4 separate regions of the Homo sapiens genome follow, and regions 1, 2 and 3 are each linked to region 4. The links come from fine-mapping of genetic effects on gene expression. A gene starts in region 4. Each other region holds a variant in brackets. All regions are shown on one strand. Distances are between the middles of the regions.

Region 1 (5,462 bases), 76 kb before region 4:
TACATGGGGTGGGGAGCCAGGCTGCCGGCTCAGAAGGCAGGGCAAGGAGGGGCGTTTCAGTGGAACTCCACTTGTGTGTGTGTGTGTGTTGGGGCGGGGGCAGGGGTAGAGAGGCAGAAATGGAGGTTGGGTCAGGCCTGGCTCAGACCCTAGGCTCTGTCACTGACTGGCTGTGTGGGTCCAGGAAAGTCCTTGTCCTCTCTGGGCCTCAGTTTCCTCTGAAGAATGGGAGTGATAAGCTATGCCCCATCTCCTTCACCAAAAGGAAGCAAGACCTGATGGAGCTGCTGGGTAACTGGAGATGCCTCCTGCTGGCTCCTTTCTGGGGTCCCTGCCTAGCCCTGTCCTCTCCTCTTACTTTCTGCCCTGGCTGAGTAGGCTGTGGCCATGTGGTTACTGCCTTCTCTGGGCATAGCTGATTGCTTCATATGGCCTGACCTAAGGCTGCATGTCCAAAGTCTGGTTGGTGGCCAGTCTAACTCACTTTTGAGAACCTGCACTAAAAGAGGTAGGGGGTGGGAAAAACTGGGCAGGCCAGCGGAGGTGGGGAGTGGCAGCTCTGAGACCTGAAGCCTCAGAACCAGCTCTCCTCCTCCTCTTCCTCCTCAAGATGGACCTCAACTCACTGAACTCTGGTTCACTCTTTTGGTCCCAGAGCTAATTCTTTGGTTGTTTAAGGTTTAGCATAGGAGACCCCAAAGCAGCAAGGTTCTGGCCCTGGTTCTGCCACTTGCCAGCTCCACGCCCTCAGATCAGTGGCTTCAGAGCCTCAACGTGCTCAGCTGTGAAACAGGGACAGGGTGAGGCCTTCCCAGGTAAGTGGCAGGAGCAGAGAGGGGACCATGCAGCAAGTGAGGTCTCCCCCTCTCTGTCTGCCTCTTCCCCCTGCTCACTTTCTCTGGCTCTTCACTTTCCTCTTCTTCCTGCTCCTCCTCCCCAAGATTCACCTGGAGCCAGTCAGTGCCCAGCCACTCAGAGGAGTTGCACCAGGGGCTGTTGGTGCCTGGTGCAGGCAGTCTCACAGGGATGGGGAGTGGGGCTTGATGGAAACCAGAGAAATTGGATGGAGGGCTTTTGGAGCGAGTTAGGGGATACGTGCAGGAAGTGGGCCTCCTGCACAGCAGGAGTTTGAGGGGCTGCCCACTCTCCCTTCTGTTTTTGGGCAGTGGCTCTTGCCCGCTTGAGGAAAAATGAAGGACAGGGGCAATGTTCTTTCTTTCTTTCTTTTTTTTTTTTTGAGACAGAGTCTCGCTCTGTTGCCCAGGCTGGAGGGCAGTGGTGCAATCTCGGCTCACTGCAACCTCCGCCTCCCGGGTTCAAGCAATTCTTGTGCCTCAGTCTCCCAAATATCTTGGATTACAGGCATGTGCCACCACGCCTGGCCAATTTTTGTATTTTTAGTAGAGACGGTTTTTACCATGTTGGCCGGGATGGTCTCAAACTCCTGATCTCAGGTGATCCACCAACCTTGGCCTCCCAAAGTGCTGACATTACAGATGTGAGCCACGGCGCCCAGCCGAGACATTCTTTCTGAGCCTGGAGATATCAACAACTGCCCCAGCTCCTCTTGGAGCCAGTTTCCAAAGTGAGGCCCCAGTCAGGTGTGTTGCACAGTGGTCTCATGGGACTCTCACAGCAGGTCTGTGAGATATGAGCTATTAGTATATCCATTCTCCGGATGAGGAAACTCAGACTCAAAAGATGAAGGGACTTGCTCGAGGCCACCTGGCTTGGGAAGGTAGAACCCAGGCCTGGCCGAGTCCAGAGCTACCTCCCTTACTAGGCCCTCCTGCCCGCTGAGCTCCTGGGTCATCACTGGGTTTAGAGTGGCTTAGGACACTGGGCAGAGCCAGGAGCATAGTCGTGCTAACCCCACAACCTGCTCCTGCCTGGAGGGGGAGGGCCCTGACCAAGCCACTGGGCAAACCAGAGCCCAGCTGGGCCTCCAACAGGCACCAAGGCCTCTCCAGTGCTTGCCCACCGCTACCCCAACCTGGATTCCTCAGTCAGCCTGGCCCCTTTCCCTAAGGGTCCTGAGCCAGCATTTACTCACTCACCCATTCATTCAAAAGCCTCTGTGGGAAGTGTGCTGCATGCTAGGCACCGTCTAAGTGCTGGGACACAGCTGTGAACAAAACAGAGAAAAACCCTGCCCTCATGCAGTTACCATATGTGGGTGGAGAGAAAGCCAATAAACATGGAAAATCAGTAACAGATAATGGGGCGTAAGTGCCGTGGAAGGGACAGCAAGAAGTGGGGTTGTGACATTAAACAGGAAGTCAGGGAAGGCCTAGTGGCTATGGGGCCATGGAGAGAGCCTGTGGGCAGTGCACAGTCCCAAGCAGGTGGAGGAGCAGACAGGCCAGGTGGCTGGAGGGCAGTGGGGGTGCACTGGGTGGTGAGGTCAGAGTTCAGGGGCACATGTGCAGGGCCTGTGGGCCACAATGAGGGCTTGGCTTCGACTGCCAGTGAGGCAGGAGCCGTGGGAGGAGGGTTTTGGCAGAGAAGGGATGGAATTCGACCTCAGTCTTTTTTTTTTGAGACAGAGTCTCGCTGTGCTGCTCAGGCTGGAGTGCGATGGTGCGATCTTGGCTCACGGCAACCTCTGCCTCCCAGGTTTAAGCAATTCTCCTGCCTCAGCTTCCCAAGAAACTGGGATTACAGACACACACCGCCACGCCCAGCTAATTTTGTATTTTTAGTAGAGACAGGGTTTCACCATGTTGGCCAGGCTGGTTTCGAACTCCTGACCTCAGGTGATCTGCCTGCCTCGACCTCCCAAAGTGTTGGGATTACATCCGTGAGCCACCAAGCCTAGCCTCGACCTCAGTCTTGATAGCAGCCTCTACTGCTATGGGAGAAGCGGCTGCAGGAGTGA[G/A]GGTGAAGGCAGGGAGGCCAGCATGGAAGCTTCTATGGAGGTCCTCCTGCACCAGGCTGCCAGCGGTTAAAGTGTGGAGAAGTGGTAGGATGCTGGGGACATGTGGCAGGTAGGACTGACAGGATTTGATGATGGGGATGAGGCAGGGTGCAGGAATGGCTCCCAAGTTTCCTTACTGAACATCAGGGAGAATGGAGAGGCCGTCAGGTCATTGGCCAGGATGAGGAAGGCTGCAGACAGAGCAAATTGAGGAAGTAGGGCCCAGGATCCAGCTTTGGGCACTGGGCACTGCTGGGGGGCCATCACAGCCACCAGGGCTGGTGACATCAGTTAGGGAGTCATTGGCATCTAGATGGCATTGAAGCCACAGCTCTGGAGGATGACACCAGGGAATGAGTATAGAGGGAAGAGAGGCCACGGAATGAGCCGCAGGGCTGCAGTGCTTAGGAGCCAAGGAGGCAGTGAGTGAGCACCACGAAGCCAGCCAGAGGAGGAGGTAGAGGCCCAGGAGGGAGTGGGGTCCTGGGGGCTGCACAGGAGGGCGGGACTGCTATGACAGATGGGACCGCTATGACAGATGAGCATGTTAGTCAAGAATGGAGAGCTGACTAATGGATGCAGCTCCTTAGAGCTCCAGGGGTGACTGTGACAAGAATGGTCCCAGTACAGTAGCAGGGGCAAGGGAAGTTACACCTGATGGAAGAGGTTTCAAGAAAGACAGGACCAGGGCCAGGTGCAGTGGCTCATGCCTGTAATCCCAGCACTCTGGGAGGCCAAGGCAGGTGGATCATATGTGGTCAAGAGTTCGAGACCAGCCTGACCAACATGGTAAAACCTCATTTCCACTAAAAATACAAAAATTAGCTGGGCGTGGTGGCGCATGCCTGTAATTGCAGCTACTCAGGAGGCTGAGGCAGGAGAATCACTTGAACCTGGGAGGCAGAGGTTGCAGTGAGCCAAGATGAAGCCATTGCACTCCAGCCTGGGCAACAAGAGCAAAAACTCCGTCTCAAAAAAAAAAAAAAAAAAAAAAAAAAGACAGGACTGTGGTGGTCACAAGGTGGGCACACTTGTGAGCATACTAAAACCACAGCATTGTACACTTTGATGGGTGAATTGTATGGAGTGCGGATTATATATTGATTGTTTTAAAAAAGAAAAAGGACAAGAGGGAGGGAAGGAAGGAAGGATGCAAGTAATCCACCCCTGGGGATCTCTCTTACACGTCCTTATGGGTAAGGACACACAAACAGAGCTGCTCATTGCTGCAGTACACCACAATGCATTCCAGGATGGAACACAACACAGCTATAACAAGGAATGTGGACGATCTCTGTGTCCTGATAGGGAGCGATCTCCAGGACCTGCTAGTGCAGGAAGCAGGCTGCAGATCAGCCTGTTGACTACAGTGTTTACTGAGGCCTTTCTGTAGGAAGAGTGTGTGTGTGTGTGTGTGTGTGTGTGTGTGTGTGTGTGTGTGTCAGGGGAGGTGCTAAGAATATAAGTTTGTATTCTTATGTTTGCCTTTTTTTTTTTTTTGAGACAGTCTCACTCCGTCAACCGGGCTGGAGAGCAGTGATGCGATCTCAGCTCACTGCAACCTCCACCTCCTAGGCCTCAGCTTCCTGAGTAGCTGGAATTACAGGCATGCACCACCATGCCTGACTAATTTTTGTATTTTTAGTAGGGACAGGGTTTTGCCATGTTGGCCGGGCTGGTCTTGAACTCCTGGCCTCAAGTGATCTGCCCACCTCATCCTCCCAAAGTGCTGGGATTATAGGCATGAGCCACTGAGCCACCATGCTCAGCTTGTGTTTGCTTTTTTATTTCCATATTAGAAATACTGCAGCCAGGAGCAGTGGCTCATGCCTGGGCACTTTGAAAAGCTGAGATGGGAGGAGCCCAGGAGTTTGAAACTAGCCCAGGCAATATAACGAGACCCTGTCCCTAGATAACAAACCGAAAAATTACAGGTGGCAAGCACCTGTAGGCCCAGCTACTCAGGAGGCTGAAGTGGGAGGATCGCTTGAGCCAGGATTTTGAGGCTGCAGTGAGTTGTGATCATGCCACTGCACTCCAGCCTCTGACACAGAGCAAGACTCTGTGTCAAAACAAACAAAAGAAATACAGCGCCAGGTGTGGTGGCTCACACCTGTAATCCTAGCACTTTGAGAGGCCAAGGTAGGCTGATTACCTGAGCTCAGGAGTTCGAGACCAGCCTGGGCAACACGGTGAAACCCCATCTCTACTAAAATACAAAAAAATTAGCTGGGTGTAGCAGCGTGTGCCTGTAGTCCTAGCTACTTGGGAGGCTGAGGCAGGAGAATTTCTTGAACCCGGGAGGCAGAGGTTGCAGTGAGCTGAGATCATGCTACTGCACTCCGGTCCAGGTGACAGAGTGAGACTCCGTTTCAAAAAAAAATAATAATAATACAGCAAAAGATACATAAGAAATTAATGAGAATAGTTATCTCACTGTAAATCTTTCTATATTAGTTTGATTTTTATCCATATGAATGCATTTCTGAGTCAAAAACCAAAAAAAATGTAACATTTAAAAGTGTAAATGTGGGCTAGGTGCGCT
Region 2 (5,462 bases), 33 kb before region 4:
CTTGTTCCCAGAAACAAACTCTCAGTGCTTCTACCTGAGCCATCCCTGTCCTACAGCTTGAACTTTGCATTCTGCTGTGTCATTTTCAACAGCATACAAATATGCTGTCACACCTCCCTTCGGAAAAGTAAGCAAAACTCCTTCTCTTGCTGGTCTGAATTTTCTAGTTTTGTACAATGCATCCCTACTGTTTCTGAATTAATGGATGGTTTTTAAAAATATTTTTGATTCAACTTTTTTTTAAGCATAATTTACTTGCAATAAAACACACCATTCTCCAGTGCATAATTCAATGAGTTCTGACAAATGCATAGGGCGATGCAGCCACCCCCACATTTGACACACAGAACATCTCTATCACTCCAGAAACCACCACCCCCCCGCACTCAGTCCTCACCCCAACTCAGCCCCAGGCTGCCACCCATCTGCTTTCTATCACTACCAGTTAGACTCATCTTTTCTACAACTTCATCTGAACGGAATCACACAGCATATCGTCTTCTGTGTCTAGATTCCTCTGCTCAGCATAATGTTTCCAGATTCATCTGTGTTGTATCGCTATAGTACATTTCTTTTTATAAGAAATGCTGAGAGGTGTTTCATTATATAGCTGTACTATAATTTATAATAAATGGTTACCTAGAAATTCATTAAAATTTGGCAATGGTTCCTTGGATATGACACCAAAAGTACAGGCAACAAAATGAAAAAAAAAATAGATAAATGGGATTATATCAAAAAGAAAAACTTTTGCCAGGCGCGGTGGCTCACGCCTGTAATCCTAACACTTTGGGAGGCTGAGGTGGGCGGATCACGAGGTCAGGAGATCGAGACCGTCCTGGCTAACACGGTGAAACCCCGTCTCTACTAAAAATACAAAAAAAAAAAAAATTACCCAGGAGTGGTGGAGGGCGCCTGTAGTCCCAGCTACTGGGAGGCTGAAGCAGGAGAATGGTGTGAACCCAGGAGGCAGAGCTTGCAGTGAGCTGAGATAGCACTGCACTCCAGCCTGGGCGACCGAGCGAGACTCCGTCTCAAAAAAAAAAAAAAAAAAAAAAAAAACTTTTGTGCATCATTAAGGCACTATCAAGAGCATGAAGAGGCCGCCGGGCACGGTGGCTCGTGCCTGTAATCCCAGCACTTTGGGAGGCTGAGGTGGGCAAATTGCGAGATCAGGAGTTCGAGACCAGCCTGGCCAACATGGTGAAACCCCATCTCTACTAAAAATACAAAAAGTAGCTGGGCGTAGTGGCAGGCATCTGTAATCCCAGCTACTCGGGAGGGTGAAGCAAGAGAATCACTTGAACTTGAGAGGCAGAAGTTGCAGTGAGCCAAGATCGTGCCACTGCACTCCAGCCCGGGCGACAGAGTGAGACTCTGTCTCAAAAAAAAAAAAAAAAAAGAGATGGTAAAGAGACCCCACAGAATAATAGGAGAAAATATTTGCAAAGCATGTATCTGATAAGGAATTAATATCTAGAAAATATAGAGAACACCTACAATTCAGCAACAATGAAACAATGCACCTGATTTAAAAATGAGCAGGGGGCCGGGTGCAGTGGCTCACACCTGTAATCCCAGCACTTTGGGAGGCTGAGGTGGGCGAATTGCGAGATCAGGAGTTCAAGACCAGCCTGGCCAACATGGTGAAACCCCATCTCTACTAAAAATACAAAAATTAGCTTGGCGTTGTGGTGGGCACCTGTAATCCCAGCTACTCAGGAGGCTGAGGCAGGACAATCGCTTGAACCCAGGAGGTGCAGGTTGCAGTGAGTTAAGCTCACACCACTGTACTCCAGCCTGGGCGACACAGGAAGACTCTGTCTCAAAAAAAAAAAAAAAAGAAAGCAGAGATCCTGGGCAACGTAGTGAGACCCTGTCTCTACAAAAAAAAAAAAAAAAAAAAAAAAAAAAAAAAAGCAAAGGACTTGAATAGACATTTCTCCAAAGAAGATATACAAATGTTGAATAAACACTTGAGATGATTTCTCAGCATCACTAATCATTAGGTAAATGCAAATCAACATAGTGAGAGCCAGTCTCTACAAATATTTTGAAAAAAAATTAGCTGGGTGTGGTGGCGTGCATCTGTAGTCGCAGCTACTTGGGAGGCTGAGGAAGGAGAATTGCTTGAGCCCAGGAGGTCAAGGCCACAGTGAGTCATGATTATGGAGTGCAGAAATGCCACTGCACGGCCAGGCGCAGTGGATCATGCCTGTAATCCTAGCACTTTGGGAGGCCGAGGTGGGCAGATCACCTGTGGTCAGAAGTTCAAGACCAGCCTGGCCAACATCATGAAACCCCATCTCTACTAAAAATACAAAAATTAGCCAGGCATGGTGGCAGGTGCCTCTAATCCCAGCTACTCAGGAGGCTGAGGCAGGAGAATCGCTTGAACCTGGGAGGCGGAGGTTGCAGTGAGCCAAGATCGTGCCATTGCACTCCAGCCTGGGCAACAAGAGGAAAACTCTGTCTCAAAAAAAAAGAAAAAAGAAAAGCCACTGCACTCCAGTCTAGGTGACAGAATGATACC[A/G]TCTCAGAAAAACAACAACAAAAATCACAGTGACGTATCACTTCACACCCATTAGGATGGCCATTATAAAAATTTTAAGGCTGGGCACAGTGGCTCACGCCTGTAATCCCAGCACTTTGGGAGGCCGAGGTGGGCAGACCACGAGGTCAAGAGATTCAGACCAACCTGACCAACATGGTGAAACCCCATCTCTACTAAAAATACAAAAATTAGCTGGGCGTGGTGGCACGTGCCTTGTAGTCCCAGCTACTTGGGAGGCTGAGGCAGGAGAATCACTTGAACCCGGGAGGTGGAGGTTGCAGTGAGCCGAGATTGTGCCACTGCACTCCAGCCTGGCGACAGAGTGAGACTCTGTCTCAAGAAAAAAAAAAAAAATTTAAAAAGGAAAACAGGTGTTGGAGAGGATATGGAGAAAATGGAATCATTGTGTACTGCTGGAGAGAATGTAAAATGGTGCAGCCACTATGAGAAACAGTTTGGTGTTCCTCAAGAAGTTAAGCATAGAATTATATGATCTAGCAATTCCACTCCTTAGTTACAAACTCAAAATACTTGAAAGCAGGTACTCAAACAGATACTGACCACACAAACCAGTGTTCATAACAGCACAATGCATAATAGTCAAAAGGTAGAAACAGCCCAAATGTTCATCAACAGATGGATAAAATGTGTTATATACATACAATGGAGTATCAGCCATAGCATAGAAAGAAATTCTGACACATTCTACAAGTGAAAAAAACCAGTCACACAAAGATAAATACTATTATGATTTCATTTCTATGAGGGATCTAGACAAATTCATGGGGACAGAAAATAGAATGGTGGTTATCAGGACTAGGGGGAGGAATGGGGATTTAGATAGCGTTTACTGAGTCCAGAATTTCTTTAGGATGATGGAAAACTTCTGGAAACAGTGGTGATAGGAACACAATGTGAATGTACTTAATACTACTGAACTGTACACTTATGAGTGGTTAAAGTGGTAAATTTTATGTAATACACATTTTACCACAATAAACAAAGCCTCATTACATATAATTTGCAGAAAACCCCTCCCCCTGCAGAAATAACCAAACCAACAACCCATTTCTAGCCCACTCCCCTGACAGCTACTTCCTATTTATTTTCTTTCCTTATGCAGCACAACTCTGCAAGCTACTCACATCAAGCTAAAATAAGCGAGAGAGAGACTGACACTCCAAAACAAAAAGTTTATTTGAGAATAGCAAGGGGTTGCAATCTGGGGTATATGGTTGGGGAAAGGGGAATGAATCTTTTAGAGGTAAAAAGGAGAAGTCCGTGTAAGCTGTTTTAAGACAGAGAACATTGTTCACAGGGGCTTCTCACAGGCTCCAGTTCCCAGCTCCCTTGCAGTGTGGTGACTGTGTGAATGGCCAGAAGCCACACTTAGTCCACCAACACCACAAGCCTGAAAGCCTTTCTCTCATTTCAGGGCGGGAGGCTCACTTAGTTACGCTCAAAGCTTCCTGTGCGTTGGAGTCACCCGGGGAGCTTTAAAAACATCGACAGGTTGTGAGGACTGGTCTGCATGCTGCCTGACATTAAATCAGCTCCCATGTGCTTCTGAAGTGCAGCCAGGTTTCAGAAACACTGCTCCAGGTCAAGCCAGTGAGAAGGCATGAAGATGGAGGGGCTGTGGAGCGATTATGGAGAGAAACCATGACTAATGCATTGAAAAATGAAGCGAACTGAAAAATCAGAAGGAAAAAAATGGCAAAAATAAACTTGAATCCAGCATATGTTTCTCTACAAATGAAAAGCCTTACATGTTTTCCCTGCTATGTACAAATAGGGAGTTTCAATCTTTCGATGTTTTGGAAGAAAAATCTGGAGGGAAAAGCTGTTCAACTGCAATCCAACTTTGAGGCTTTTTTTTTTAATTTTTATTTTTAAATATATCAAAGCCTACTGCCTATTTCATTACTGAGCAATTTTAATGCTTCCCTTCCCAGGTGCAGTTCAGATGAGTGGAGATAGCACTTTTTTTGTTGTTGTTTTTTTTGAGATGGAGTCTTTGCACTATCGCCCAGGCTGGAGTGCAGTGGCGCTATCTCGGCTCACTGCAAGCTCCGCCTCCCGGGTTCACGCCATTCTCCTGCCTCGGTCTCCTGAGTAGCTGGGACTACAGGGGCCTGCCACCACGCCCAGCTAACTTTTTGTATTTTTAGTAGAGACGGGGTTTCACCGTGTTAGCCAGGATGAGTCTTGATCTCCTGACCTTGTGATCCGCCCACCTTGGCCTCCCAAAGTGCTGGAATTACAGGCGTGAGCCACCGCGCCCAGCCGACAGCATTCTTATAGTTTTCCTTTTGTCCTGTTTTGCAATTGGTTTCACACTTAAAATCTACACAATTTCTACTATTTCTACAGTTCCTATAGATGGCCTAAAAACAAAGCTAACTAAAGGTTATAAATTGGGGATCTAAGAATCGAGATATGAAAGAGAGTTGCTATAGCTGTTGTAGACATGTTTTATTCCTGCATCACCCTCAATACCTACAATGGTGCATGTGGCAAGGCTCAGTAGATACTTTTTATTTATTTATATTTTTTTGAGATGGAATCTCATTCTGCCACTCAGGCTGGAGTGCAGTGGCACGACCTTGGCTCACTGCAACCTCTGCCTCCCTGGTTCAAGTGATTCTCCTGCCTCAGCTTCCTGGTAGCTGGGACTACAGGCACCCGCCACCATGCCCGGCTAGTTTTTGTATTTTTAGTAGAAATGGGGTTTCACCATGTTGGCTAGGCTGGTCTCGAACTCCTGACCTCAAGTGATCCTCCCACCTCAGCCTCCCAAAGTGCTGGGATTACTGGCATGAGCCACCGCACCCTGGCCCAGTAGATATTTTTATATTATTATTAAGCAAGAATAACTTTTTACATGTTATTCAATTTACAATTATTC
Region 3 (5,462 bases), 120 kb after region 4:
AAACTGCTGGGATTACAGGTGTAATCCATCACACCAGGCCCAAATATGGTTACATTTAAATGTAATCTTCCCTGTTTGTTCTCACTGTTGATATTCGTGACCTTTCTATGTTGATGAATAGGAGTAATTTCCCAGATGATCTAGAACCCTATTGTATTTGGCTTTGGAATGTGAAACACGTGTACATTTATGTCCGCATCTCCCCTTGTGCCAGTCCAGACTGGCTCTCAGTTTGGTCCTCCTTAACTAGCTGGGTACCCTGGGTGACCTCCTTTGGGACAAGGGAGAGTTAGCAGGGAGGCCTGGTCAGAATAAAATGCCTTTTGAGAGATATTGGGGTTACCAGGCTTTTATCCTTAAGTCTGTATGTTCAGACTAAGTAATGAAGCTTACTTATGTTTAGGCCAGCTTGAAAGCTTGTACCTAGCTTTTTTTTTTTTTTTTCTCCAAGAGACAGAGTTTTACTCTGTCCCCCAGGCTAGAATACAGTGGTATGATCACAACTCACTGCGGCCTCGACATCCTGTGCTCAAGTGATCCTCTCACCTCAGCCTGTGGAGTAGCTGGGACTACAGGTGCGTGCCACTGAGCCCTGCTAATTTTTAAATTTTTGGTAGAGACAAGGTCTTGCTGTGTTACCCAGGCTGGTTTTGAATTCCTGGGCTCAAGTGGACTTCCTGCCTTGGCCTTCCAAAGTGCTGGGATTATGGGCATGAGGCACCACGACTAACCTATAGCCTATACCTAGCTTTTTTTTTTTTTTTTTGAGACAGGGTCTCACTGTGTCACCCAGGCTAGAGTACAGTGGCACCATCATAGCTTACTGCAGCCTCCATCTCCTGGGCTCAAGCGATCTTCCTACCTCAGCCTCCCAAGTAGCTGGGACTATAGGCATGCGTTACCACATCTGGCTAATTTTTTTTTTTTTTTTTTTTTTTGGTAGACACGAGGTGAGGTCGCTATGTTGGCCAGGCTGGTCTTGAACTCCTGAGCTCAAGAGATCCTCCCACCTCAGCGTGGCAAAGTGCTGGGATTAGAGGCATGAGCCACTGCGCCTGGGCTATACCTGGCTATTTTTGATGGAAGAATTAAATAACTGGCTTTTAGTTTTGGTCATTAGTTTGCCACTTTCTTTCTTAGTCTTTTGCTGTATAATATCCTCTTTCCTTCTTTTTGTAACAGTAATAACATAAAAAATTTTTAAAGTTTGCCTTTAAGCCAAATACTTCAACACACTGATTATTTTCACTTTTTCCCATTTATCTTCCAGGCATTATCCATATGCATGTTTTTTTAAAAATCAATTTTGTGTCTTTTTTTTCTTACATCATTACAAAATGTTTCTATATGGTTTTAAGAATTATTACTTATAATGGCTGTATTAGGTTGTTCTTGCATTGCCATAAAGAAATACCTGAGACTAGGTAATTTATAAAAGAGGTTTATTTGGCTCATGGTTTTGCAGGCTGTATAGGAAGCATAGTACTGGCAGCTGCTTCTGAGGAGGCTTCAGGAAGCTTTTACTCATGGCAGAAGGGGAAGGGAGAGCAGGCACCTCACATGGTGAAAACAGGAACAAAAAACAGAGAGAGAGAGTGGAGGAGGGAGTGCCACACACTTTTAACTGACCAGATATTGCAAGAATTATCACAAAGACATCATCAAGGCATGAAGGATCTGCCCACCAGGCCCTACCTCCAGCATTGGGAACTACAATTCAACATAAGATTTGGGTGGGGACAAATATCCAAACTATATCAATAGCTATATAATATTCAGTGGAATCAATATACTATATTTAATCATCACTTTTTTATTTTATATTTGAGAAGTTTTAAGAATTTTATTTTATTTTTGAGGCAGGGTCTCACTCTGTCCCTCAGGCTGGAGTGCAGTGATGTGATCACGGTTCGCTGCAGCCTCAGTCTTCCGTGCTGAAGCAATACTCCTATCTCAGCCTCTTGAGTAGCTGGGGACTACAGGCATGTACCACCATGCCTGGCTAATTTTGTATTTTTTGTAGAGGCAAGGTTTATGTTGCTCAGGCTGGTCTCAAACTCCTGGGCTTAAGTGATCCTCCTGCTTGAGCCACTGCACCCAGCTAAGGATTTTAAATAATACTACATTGAACACATTCCTAGTAGCTTTTCTCCCATTTTTCAACAGCTTTATTGAGATATAATTCATATGCCATACAATTCACCCATTTACAATGTACAAGTCAGTGGTTTTTAGTATAGTCACAGAGTTTTTTTTAAAAAACATTGTATTCACAGCGTTGTTCAGCCATTACCACAATCAGTTTTAGAACATTTTCATCATTCCGTACCCATTAGCAATCACTCCCCATTTCCCCCAGCCCTTCCAACCCCAGGCAATCACTAATCTATTTTCTGTCTCTATAGATTTGCCTATTCTGGACATTTTATATAAATGGAATCATACAATATGTAGTCATTTTTACCTTTGTTTTTGTTTTTGTTTGAGACAGAGTCTTGCTCTGTTGCCCATTCTGGAGTGCAGTGGCGCGATCTCGGCTCACTGCAACCTCTGCTCCTGGGTTCAAGTAATTCTCCTGCCTCAGCCTCCCGAGTAGCTGGGATTACAGGTGCATACCACCATGCCTGGCTAATTTTTGTATTTTTTTAGTGGAGACGGGGTTTCACCATGTTGGCCAGGCTGGTCTCAAACTCCTGACCTTATGATCTGCCCACCTCGACCTCCCAAAGTGCTGAGATTACAGGCGACAGCCACCGCGCCCGGCCTTTTTTTTTCTTTTTTAGACACAAGTTCTTGCTCTGTCTCTCAGACTGGAGTGTCTCCCAGCCTCCAGTTCCTGGGCTTAAGTGATCCTCTTGCCTCCCAAGTATCTTTTTTACCATTTTAAAGATGTGTATAACATAAAATCTACAATTTTAACTTTTTTCTTTTGAGATGGGGTCTCACCCTCTTGCCCAGGCTGGAGTGCAGTGGTGCGATCACGACTCACTGTAGCCTTGACCTCCTAGCCTCAAGTGATCCTCCTGCCTCAGGCTCTGGAGTAGGTGAAACTACAGATGCTCACCACTGCGCCCAGCTAATTAAAAAAAAATTTTTTTTTGTAGAGACAGGGTCTCCCTATGTTGCCCAGGCTTAAAAATACATGTTAATACAAGTGTTGAAGTTTTACCATGGGTGTTTGTTGTTGTTGTTGTTGTTGTTGTTTTGTTGTTGTTGTTTGAGATGGAGTTTCACTCTTGTCGCCCAGACTGGAATGCAGTGGCG[C/T]GATCTCGGCTCACTGCAACCTCCACCTCCCGGGTTCAAGTGATTCTCCTGCCTCAGCCTCCCAAATAGCTGGGATTACAGGCACCCACCACCACGCCTGGCTAATTTTTTTGTATGTTTAGTAGAGACCAGGATTTCATCAAGTTGGCCAGGCTGGTCTTGAACTCTTGATCTCAGGCGATCCGCCTGCCTTGGCCTTCCAAAGTGCTGGGATTACAGGCGTGAGCCACTGCGCCCAGCCAACACTGTGGCTTTAATGAGCACAGCAGGTATGAGCCCTGGGAAACTTCTGGGAGTCTTTCTCCTGGTGTGGAATTTTGTAATCACTCTTTGAGGCCTTTTTATAGCCTTGTTCCTGGTGATGCCTGCGGTCCCTGGTTGGCCTCACAGGCTAGTTGGTGCCTGGCCAACAGATTGCAGCCTTGTCCTGGTCCTCTCTGCTCACACTCCAGGAGGCAGTTAAGGTGGCCACTTCACTATTCCACCTGGAGGCTGCAATAAAAGCATTGGAGACAGTCACCCTCCCCTTCTGCTTCCCCGCTGGAATTCCGTCTTTCCTGAGATGCAGTCCACAGAATACACAAGTTAAGAATTGTGGTTCATATTTATTGCGCCCTCACTATGTTCCAGGTTCCCTGTTTCGTGTCTTATATCACTAACTTATTTGATCTTAACCACACCCTGTGAGGAGGTACAATTGTTTTGCCCGTTTTATGGATGAAATTCAGAGAGCGTGAGAAATGTGTCCTAGGTCAGAGAGAGCCAAGACTGACCCCCAGTCCCCAGATTCAAAGCCATGACCTTGACCAACATGCTGTCCTGTCTCCTTTTCTCACTGAGCAGTTGTGATAACCTGCCCCCTGCTTCCTGCCTGCAGTCTCTCCACTCCACTACAGCCCCCATGCTGTTACCAGAGCGATCTGTCTCAGACATAAATATTCTTGTCACTCCTGTTGAAAAGCCCCATGTTGCCTCCTGTGGAAAGCCCAGACTCCTTAGAGAAAATGAAAGGACACTCCAGAGCTGGCCTCCTCTCACCGCTCCCCTTCACCGAGGCCCTGGCCCTGGGAGGCTGTTTGCATAGCCTATGATGTTCCTCTCTCTTCAAATTCCTGCTCTTTCCTTGTACCAGGCCCATTTCTTAGCTTTCACAGTCCCCTCTGCTCCCCTGTTCAGCCTCAGGTCTGTGCCCTGTGTCCTGGATGGCTGGCTGCAGGTCTTTCCTGGGGAGTGCTTTCAGTGTAGGGGCTCCATCTTACTTCTTTCCATCCCAGTCTGGCAGGGAGAGGCCTCACAGTTGAAGTTTTTAAATTGAGCTGGGAAGTCTTTGGATAATCCTTCCCAAGGAGTGGCATTCACATCTCTGGGATGTGTCTCTGTCATCGGGAGAAGCTCAAAAAAAAGGCTGGTGACAGTGTGGCACACTGTGAAATTCTCAGGCACACCTCCTCTCTTCTCTGAGAGTGCTGGTGGTGAATGGTGGGCACGAGGGCGAGGGGAACAGCCCCTGGGAGGCGCTCTGGGGAAGAAGAAATTGGCAGCAAAGCAGACTGCACGAAGAGGCCGAGAGGAAGACAGGACAGGTGAATCCCACCCCCCCACCCCGCCCCCACTTTCCCTTATCTGCTCTGCTTTAAGCAGAAACTGTAACCTGATCACCAGGTCACAGAGAAACTTTGATCCTCCCAGCCACCCCCACCTGTCTGACATTAGAGCACAGCCTGCTAGGCTGGGACAAGCTGGCCACAGCCCCCTCTTCCCCAAAGCCTGGCACCATCTTGGGGCCTGGCTGGCTCCTGCAGAGGCCTTTCCTCCCCCATGGCCAATTTCCATCCTGGCCCTAAATTGGCCTCTTCCCCCAGCTACTCTCACACACTGACTCACACGTAAGTTATTCCATTAAGTACAAAGAACGGCATACATCAAATACCAGTGGCTCTGCTTCTAGAGAGCACACCCCAAATGCATTTTAAATCTGTGGATCCTCCTCAAGGGAATTCCAGTTAAAAAAGAACTTGGGTCAGCAGCCTCGGGCCTGTGTGGCTAACAAGCTTCTGTTTTCTCTGTTGTTTGGCTGGCCTGAAGGGTTCCTTTGTTTGGGGAGTGGGAGGATGTGGTGTCCTAATGAGGCCAGGGTGTGGAATTGGGGCTCACACAGAGCTGTCCTTTAGAACTGAGCTCTCCAGACAGGAGAATAA
Region 4 (5,462 bases):
AAAGAAAGAAAGAAAACAAAACAAAACAAACAAAAAGAAGCTGAGTTATAAAAGGCAGAAGTATTTTAAGTCTAAGAAGGCTGTGTCTGACAAACTAGTCCTGGCTGAAAAACCAGATGATGGGGCAATTCACATGCCACTGACTAGTCGTGATGATGACCAAGCAGCTCACCAATCCAGATGTAGGGCAGCATTCATTGGCATGACCACCACCCCCACCATCAGACATCTTACTCAAGTGGCTCCCAGCCATCCACCAGGTTTCTGCTCTGGGCTGCCTGAGACCTATCAGCCCTGCCCCAACTCAACCACTGCTTCCCCTGGTTCATGATTCTCCTTCTGAAAGGAGCTCAGAAGTGATACCCTAATGACAGAAGGGAGCAGCAGTTGCTGCAGTAGCCAAAGCAGACTCCCCTTTGACGCCTGGCTATCTTGCCAATTGTCCCCTACTACATCAGAAACCATCAAACTGAACAACAGGGACAAATCCAAGATCATCCCAAACGTGACCCACCCAGGGATCTCACCTCCAGAATTCTATGACTAGGTGCAAAACAAACCGAAAAACCCCTGTACCTTCATACTCGACTCTCACATTTTAAGAAGAGGATCACTACATTAGGCATACAGTTATGAAGACAAAAATATTTCAGCCACAATCGTATTTCCATTATAATAACTATCGTGGCTCATGATAGAACTTTACAGCCCAAAGATATGATTAACATGACGATGCTGTTTCAAGTAAGCAGAGAAAATGATTTATTCCCACAAAGCAGTATGAGAATAAAAGAGTGATGAGTGCTCCGCAGTTAGCAGAAAGAAAAGGCACCCTCATTGTCTTTTGGATGGGAGACCTACTCTTCAGAAGTGAAACTAAGATTTGTTTTAAATGACCAAAAGGAGAGCTTGAGGAATAAATATACTGTACATTCCACCCTCACACCCCGGGGGGTGGGGCGGGGGGGAGGCAGTGGGGCAGCACACAGTGCCTTTCAGAGGGACAGGTGTTTGGAGGGGCTTCTGGGAACAGCCTGGCAGATGAGGTGTCAGACTAAGGAAAAAAAGGGCAAAGGGAAGGGGAAAGGGGTCCTTAGTCAGGCAGGGGTAGGTATAGAGGAGGAAGAGTTTTGTGGGGAGGGGAGATAAAAGAGTATTCACCACTGCCACTCCATTTCAGCTGGCAAAAAGTGTCAAGCCTGAGAGGAGTGAGGTGTGGGAAAGGCCCAGACAAGTGAAGCTGTACTTCCGAAGCTGATCAGGGACTGGCAGCAGGTATTCAGGAATCCAGGTCAAATGGGGGGAGGCGACTGGACATGAACTAAAATTGGGTGAGTTAGATTTCCCAGTACATGGGTACCAGAGACTAAGAGGAAGCCCTGTGCCTGTGTAGAGAAAAGTTAAGAACAGGAAAGAGGGTCCCCTGGAACCAGGATCGAGCAAGACGAAGGTATGGGGTGGGGAAGTCTGGATAGAGGCCAGGAAGACTGGGAAAAGACTGCAAATGGTCCCAGAGCAGGGGCAGGAGGCCTGGGGGTGGAGAAGCTGGAAGGAGCTGGGTGCCTGGACCATGAAGAGACAGAAGCAGTGAGTGGAACAGGGGACCCAGGAGGCAACATCCCAACAGACTGTGAGCAGCACTCAGGGAGTGAGTGCCTGGTCTTGAGGTGAGGCCAGGGCCTGACCAATCAGTTGCGGGTTAGGTGCTCCCCCGTCTGGGGGTCTGATGAAGCCCTCCTAAGGAGATCTCAGGAGGAGGAAGACCCCAAGGTCTGCGGATTCCTGGAACTGAGGAAGGGGCAGGAGGACATGTCTCAGGTCTGAGAGAATCTGACGTGGGCCCAGACATGGGGAGGGTCCCAAGTCTGGTGAAACCAATGGAGAGTTCTTCAGGGTCTGAAAAGGGCTGGTGGCAGTCCCTGATCTAGGGACGACAGGTCATGGGGAGGAAGGACCCAGGCCTTCTCCGAGTCATGAGGGGCTTCCGGATCCCAGACGGGCCGGTCACGGGCTTCAAGTCTGGGAGTGTTCGGGGTCCGCCAGGAGCCGGTCACGACGGGCTCTGGGTCCGAAGGGGCAGGTCAGGGCTGGGGCTCGGAGAGTGTGAGACACAGGCTGGGAAGGTCCCGGGTGGGAAGCGCCGGGTGCAGGAGGCCCCGGCGGCGAGGGCCTGTTCCGCGGCTGCGGGGTCGAGGAGCCGAAGCGGGCACGGCCCGTGAGCGCCGCGAGGAGGCCCTCGGGCCCCGGCCCGGCCCGGCGCTCACCTGCAGCACCACCTCTACGTCGTACGAGTTCCCCTTGCTCTTCTGGTGGCCGCGGAACTTGGAGCCGCTGTAGAGCAGGCTGGTGGCCACGCCGGGCTGCTGGGTGTTGATGGGCGGCGGCGGGATGAGTGAGGCCGCGGAGGCAGCGGAGGCACCGGCCGGCGGGGGACACTCGGTGCGGACCGGCATCGCGGGGTCCCCCGGAGCCAGGGCTGGGGGGAGTGGGAGAGGAACCGCCGCCGCCGCGCGGGAGCCGAGGAGGGTGGCGGGGAGGGAGAGGCCGGGGCGCGCACGCGCGGGGTGGGGGCGGGAGGGGCGACCACCCGCCCGCTGCCTGCGGAGCAAGCGCTCCGGCCGCCACCGGGACCCAGGGACCTGCGAGCAGGGCCTCCCAGTCCTGAGCTGGGTCCCCCTCCCGACTTGCCCTCGCGCACACATACACACACACAGACACTCACAGACACACAACACACAAACACACACAGACACACACACACCCCGCCCCTTCCGATTGGCTCAGGCGAGCCTGGGGGGCGGGAGCAGGCTCAGGCGGCGCTTCCGCCCATTGGCGGGAGGAGAAAACACGTGGCGCGGTGCGCGAGCGGCCCGCTGGGACTTGTAGTCTCCTCGCCGAGGCGCGGCGTGGAGGGGGCGGGGCGAGGTGCGTTTGTGATGCTGATTGACTGGGGGTGTGCGCAGGAGGCGCGCGGCGGCGACGGCGCGCCGTAGGTGTCATGCGGAAGATGGCGGCGTCCAAGGGAGGTTGAGGGCTCTGAGGAGGCGTTGAGAGGTTTCCGTACAGCCCGACCGTGCGGCTTTGGGGATCCCATCGCTCTGTGTTTCCTGCTCCAGGTTTCGCGTCTCGCATCTTCCCAGACCCTCGGGCGCGATGTGGAGGAGCTGCCTCCGGCTGCGGGACGGGGGACGCCGTCTCCTGAATCGGCCGGCGGGTGGCCCCAGCGCTTCTATGAGTCCGGGGCCAACCATCCCGTCTCCAGCCCGGGCTTACGCCCCGCCGACAGGTAAGACCATGACATGTTCTTTTGGGTTGGGGCCGAGCTGGGGTAAGGTGGGCTTCGGGCTTCGGCTGTGCAAAGCGAAGTAACTGAGGCAGGGTTCAGGCTCATGAGGTTATGCAGGCCAGTCAGGTCTTTTTACAGATGAGAAAGTGAAGCCCAGACAAGGGCAGACGACCCGAGAGGGAACAGCGAGTCACGCACGATACAGTAATTGATATTTGGCCTGTGCAGGTTTTCTCAAAGCTTATGGCTGCCCTCCCTTTAATAAGGAAAGCAGGTGTCATCTTTGTTTTCAAAAGGGGAAGTTTGGGCTCTGAATCAGGACTTCGTCTGGGTTACAGGCAGACTCTCTCAGAGGTTTGTGGTGTCTGTCTGACTGTTTTCCGTGTCTCCACTGCCCAACACAAGACCTGCCCAGAAGGGACCTAGAACCTGGGCCTTCATTCCTCCATCCCGGGCACTTCTGCTGCAGGTTTCCTGACTTTCCCTCCTACCACAACCTCTGCCATCTGCAGCCTTCTCTCCTAAATAGAAATTGACACCTCCACCTCTGACTGTGGAGTCACCTCCACCTCCAACTCTGATGAAGCTTAGAAGTAGTGGCTCTTTCATTGCTGATGGTGAGTGGTGTCAGGGTAAGAGTGAGAATGACTCATTTCAGTGAATGAAGAGCAGTAACACCCTCCCACCATTCAATTAGTTTTATTGTGCTGGAGGCAGGAGGCACGGTTGTCTTTAAGACCCACCTGTATGTATTGGTAGAGAAGCTCAATTAAAGAAGAAAAAGGCCCACCTGAATGATGTTCACTGTTCATTGCAAAAGGTTATAATATTCTGATTAAATTGTGGTTTATAATATCCTGATAAGGGACATACAAAGAAACTGTGAGAACACAGAGAATCGCTTACTCCCATCTTGGGGATGTTCAGGGTTTAGAATGGGTCTTGGGTGAAAGGGCGTTTGTTTAAGCTGAGCCATGATAGATGAGTAGGAGTTCAGCAAAAAGGTGGGAGAGTGTTGGGTATCTAGAACGTGTCCAGGGTGACAGCAAGGTATGAGGGACTTTTCCCTGACACTGCCTGTTTTAGAAAATCCAGAACTTCACAGGCAGTTTGGCATTGTGGCAGGAGTGCAAATCTAGGATCTGATGCTGGCTGAACCTCTGAGGTCTGTGTGATCTTGGGCATGCAACTACTTCCTCATTTTTCTCCATGCGTTGAAGTACTAGGTTGCCTTTGAGGATCTTTCTGGCTGTCAAGTTCTTTTTTTTTCTTCTTCTTCTGTTTTTTTGTGTTTTTTTGAGACGGAGTCTCCTCTGTCACAGAGGCTGGAGTGCAGTGGCACCATCTCGGCTCACTGCAACCTCCGCCTCCCAGATTCAAGCGATTTTGTGGTCTCAGCCTCCCAAGTAGGTGGGACTACAGGCGTCTGCCACCATGCCCTGCTAATTTTTGTATTTTTAGTAGAGATGGGGTTTATATTGACTAGGCTGGTCTCGAACTCCTGACTTTGTGACCCGCCCACCTCGGCCTCCCAAAGTGCTGGGATTACAGGCGTGAGCCACCGCGCCCAGCCAAGTTCTATAACTTTATAGAAATGGGGAAGGGGGCTGGATGCAGCAGGGAGCTGAAGTTTCACCTGCAGGACTCAGGGGAAGGGCCTGGAAATGGGCCATGAAGGGCCAGTAAAGAAGAGAAAGGAAGGGCATCCCAGGGAGGCATAGCAAAGGGGACACATTCAGGAGTTCACCAAGTTGGCAAAAAGCAAAGGGTTAATTAATTTATTTATTTACGTATTTATTTATTTATTTTGAGATGGAGTTTTACACTTGTCACCCAGGCTGGCATGCAATGGTGTGATCTTGGCTCACTGCAACCTCTACCTCCCAGATTCAAGCAATTCTCCTGCCTCAGCCTCCCAAGTAGCTGGGATTACAGGTGTCCGCCACCACACGTGGCTAATTTTGTATTTTTAGTAGAGATGGGGTTTCACCATGTTGGCCACACTGGTCATGAACTCCTGACCTCAGGTGATCCTCCCGCCTCAGCCTCCCAAATGCTGGGATTACAGGCGTGAGCCACCATGCCTGACCACAAAGGGTTAATTTAGATTTGTGGATGCTCACTTTACATAATGGTGGCACTTGATCTACTGCCTTCTTTTCCTTTTTAAAAAGCC

Alleles and levels. Positions count from the first base shown, and alleles are read on the strand shown. Sizes are in standard deviations (SD) of each study's normalised expression. Not every link is listed here.
For the expression in breast of the gene that starts at base 2,999 in region 4, G is the high allele of the variant in region 1 and A is the other (moderate effect, 0.53 SD a copy in GTEx).
In carriers of allele A in region 2, the expression in transverse colon of the gene that starts at base 2,999 in region 4 tends to be lower than with G alone (moderate effect, 0.46 SD a copy in GTEx).

The links. PIP is the estimated chance that this variant, and not a neighbour inherited with it, causes the effect.
Region 1: its variant is the best candidate, but not a certain one, in a credible set for the expression of ATPAF2 in breast (GTEx, PIP 0.55).
Region 2: its variant is the best candidate, but not a certain one, in a credible set for the expression of ATPAF2 in transverse colon (GTEx, PIP 0.73).
Region 3: its variant is the best candidate, but not a certain one, in a credible set for the expression of ATPAF2 in nasal epithelium (TOPMed, PIP 0.60).

Annotation. Positions count from the first base shown.
Region 1 is chr17:18,112,695-18,118,156 of GRCh38, reverse strand. All of the region lies in intron 1 of MYO15A (myosin XVA), which reads right to left. LOC105371566 (a long non-coding RNA gene) reads left to right here and starts at 596. Exons shown (of 3, transcript NR_164159.1): 1 at 596-815. The variant G/A (reference allele first, on the strand shown) is at 2,879.
Region 2 is chr17:18,069,674-18,075,135 of GRCh38, reverse strand. No RefSeq gene overlaps it. Among named protein-coding and RNA genes, the nearest start is that of DRG2, 16 kb to the left of the region's middle. The variant A/G (reference allele first, on the strand shown) is at 2,534.
Region 3 is chr17:17,921,159-17,926,620 of GRCh38, reverse strand. The region is part of intron 1 of TOM1L2 (target of myb1 like 2 membrane trafficking protein); the gene reads left to right. Among named protein-coding and RNA genes, the nearest start is that of TOM1L2, 49 kb to the left of the region's middle. RefSeq lists enhancers at 3,078-3,610, 3,611-4,144, 4,145-4,678, 5,213-5,462 and a silencer at 4,772-5,066. The variant C/T (reference allele first, on the strand shown) is at 3,265.
Region 4 is chr17:18,036,705-18,042,166 of GRCh38, reverse strand. It overlaps ATPAF2 (ATP synthase mitochondrial F1 complex assembly factor 2), which reads left to right and starts at 2,999. Exons shown (of 8, transcript NM_145691.4): 1 at 2,999-3,286. The coding sequence starts at 3,154. It overlaps GID4 (GID complex subunit 4 homolog), which reads right to left and starts at 2,759. Exons shown (of 6, transcript NM_024052.5): 1 at 2,265-2,759. The coding sequence starts at 2,702. RefSeq lists enhancers at 1,751-1,810, 2,961-3,070, 3,211-3,260, 3,271-3,340 and silencers at 2,161-2,750, 2,761-2,850.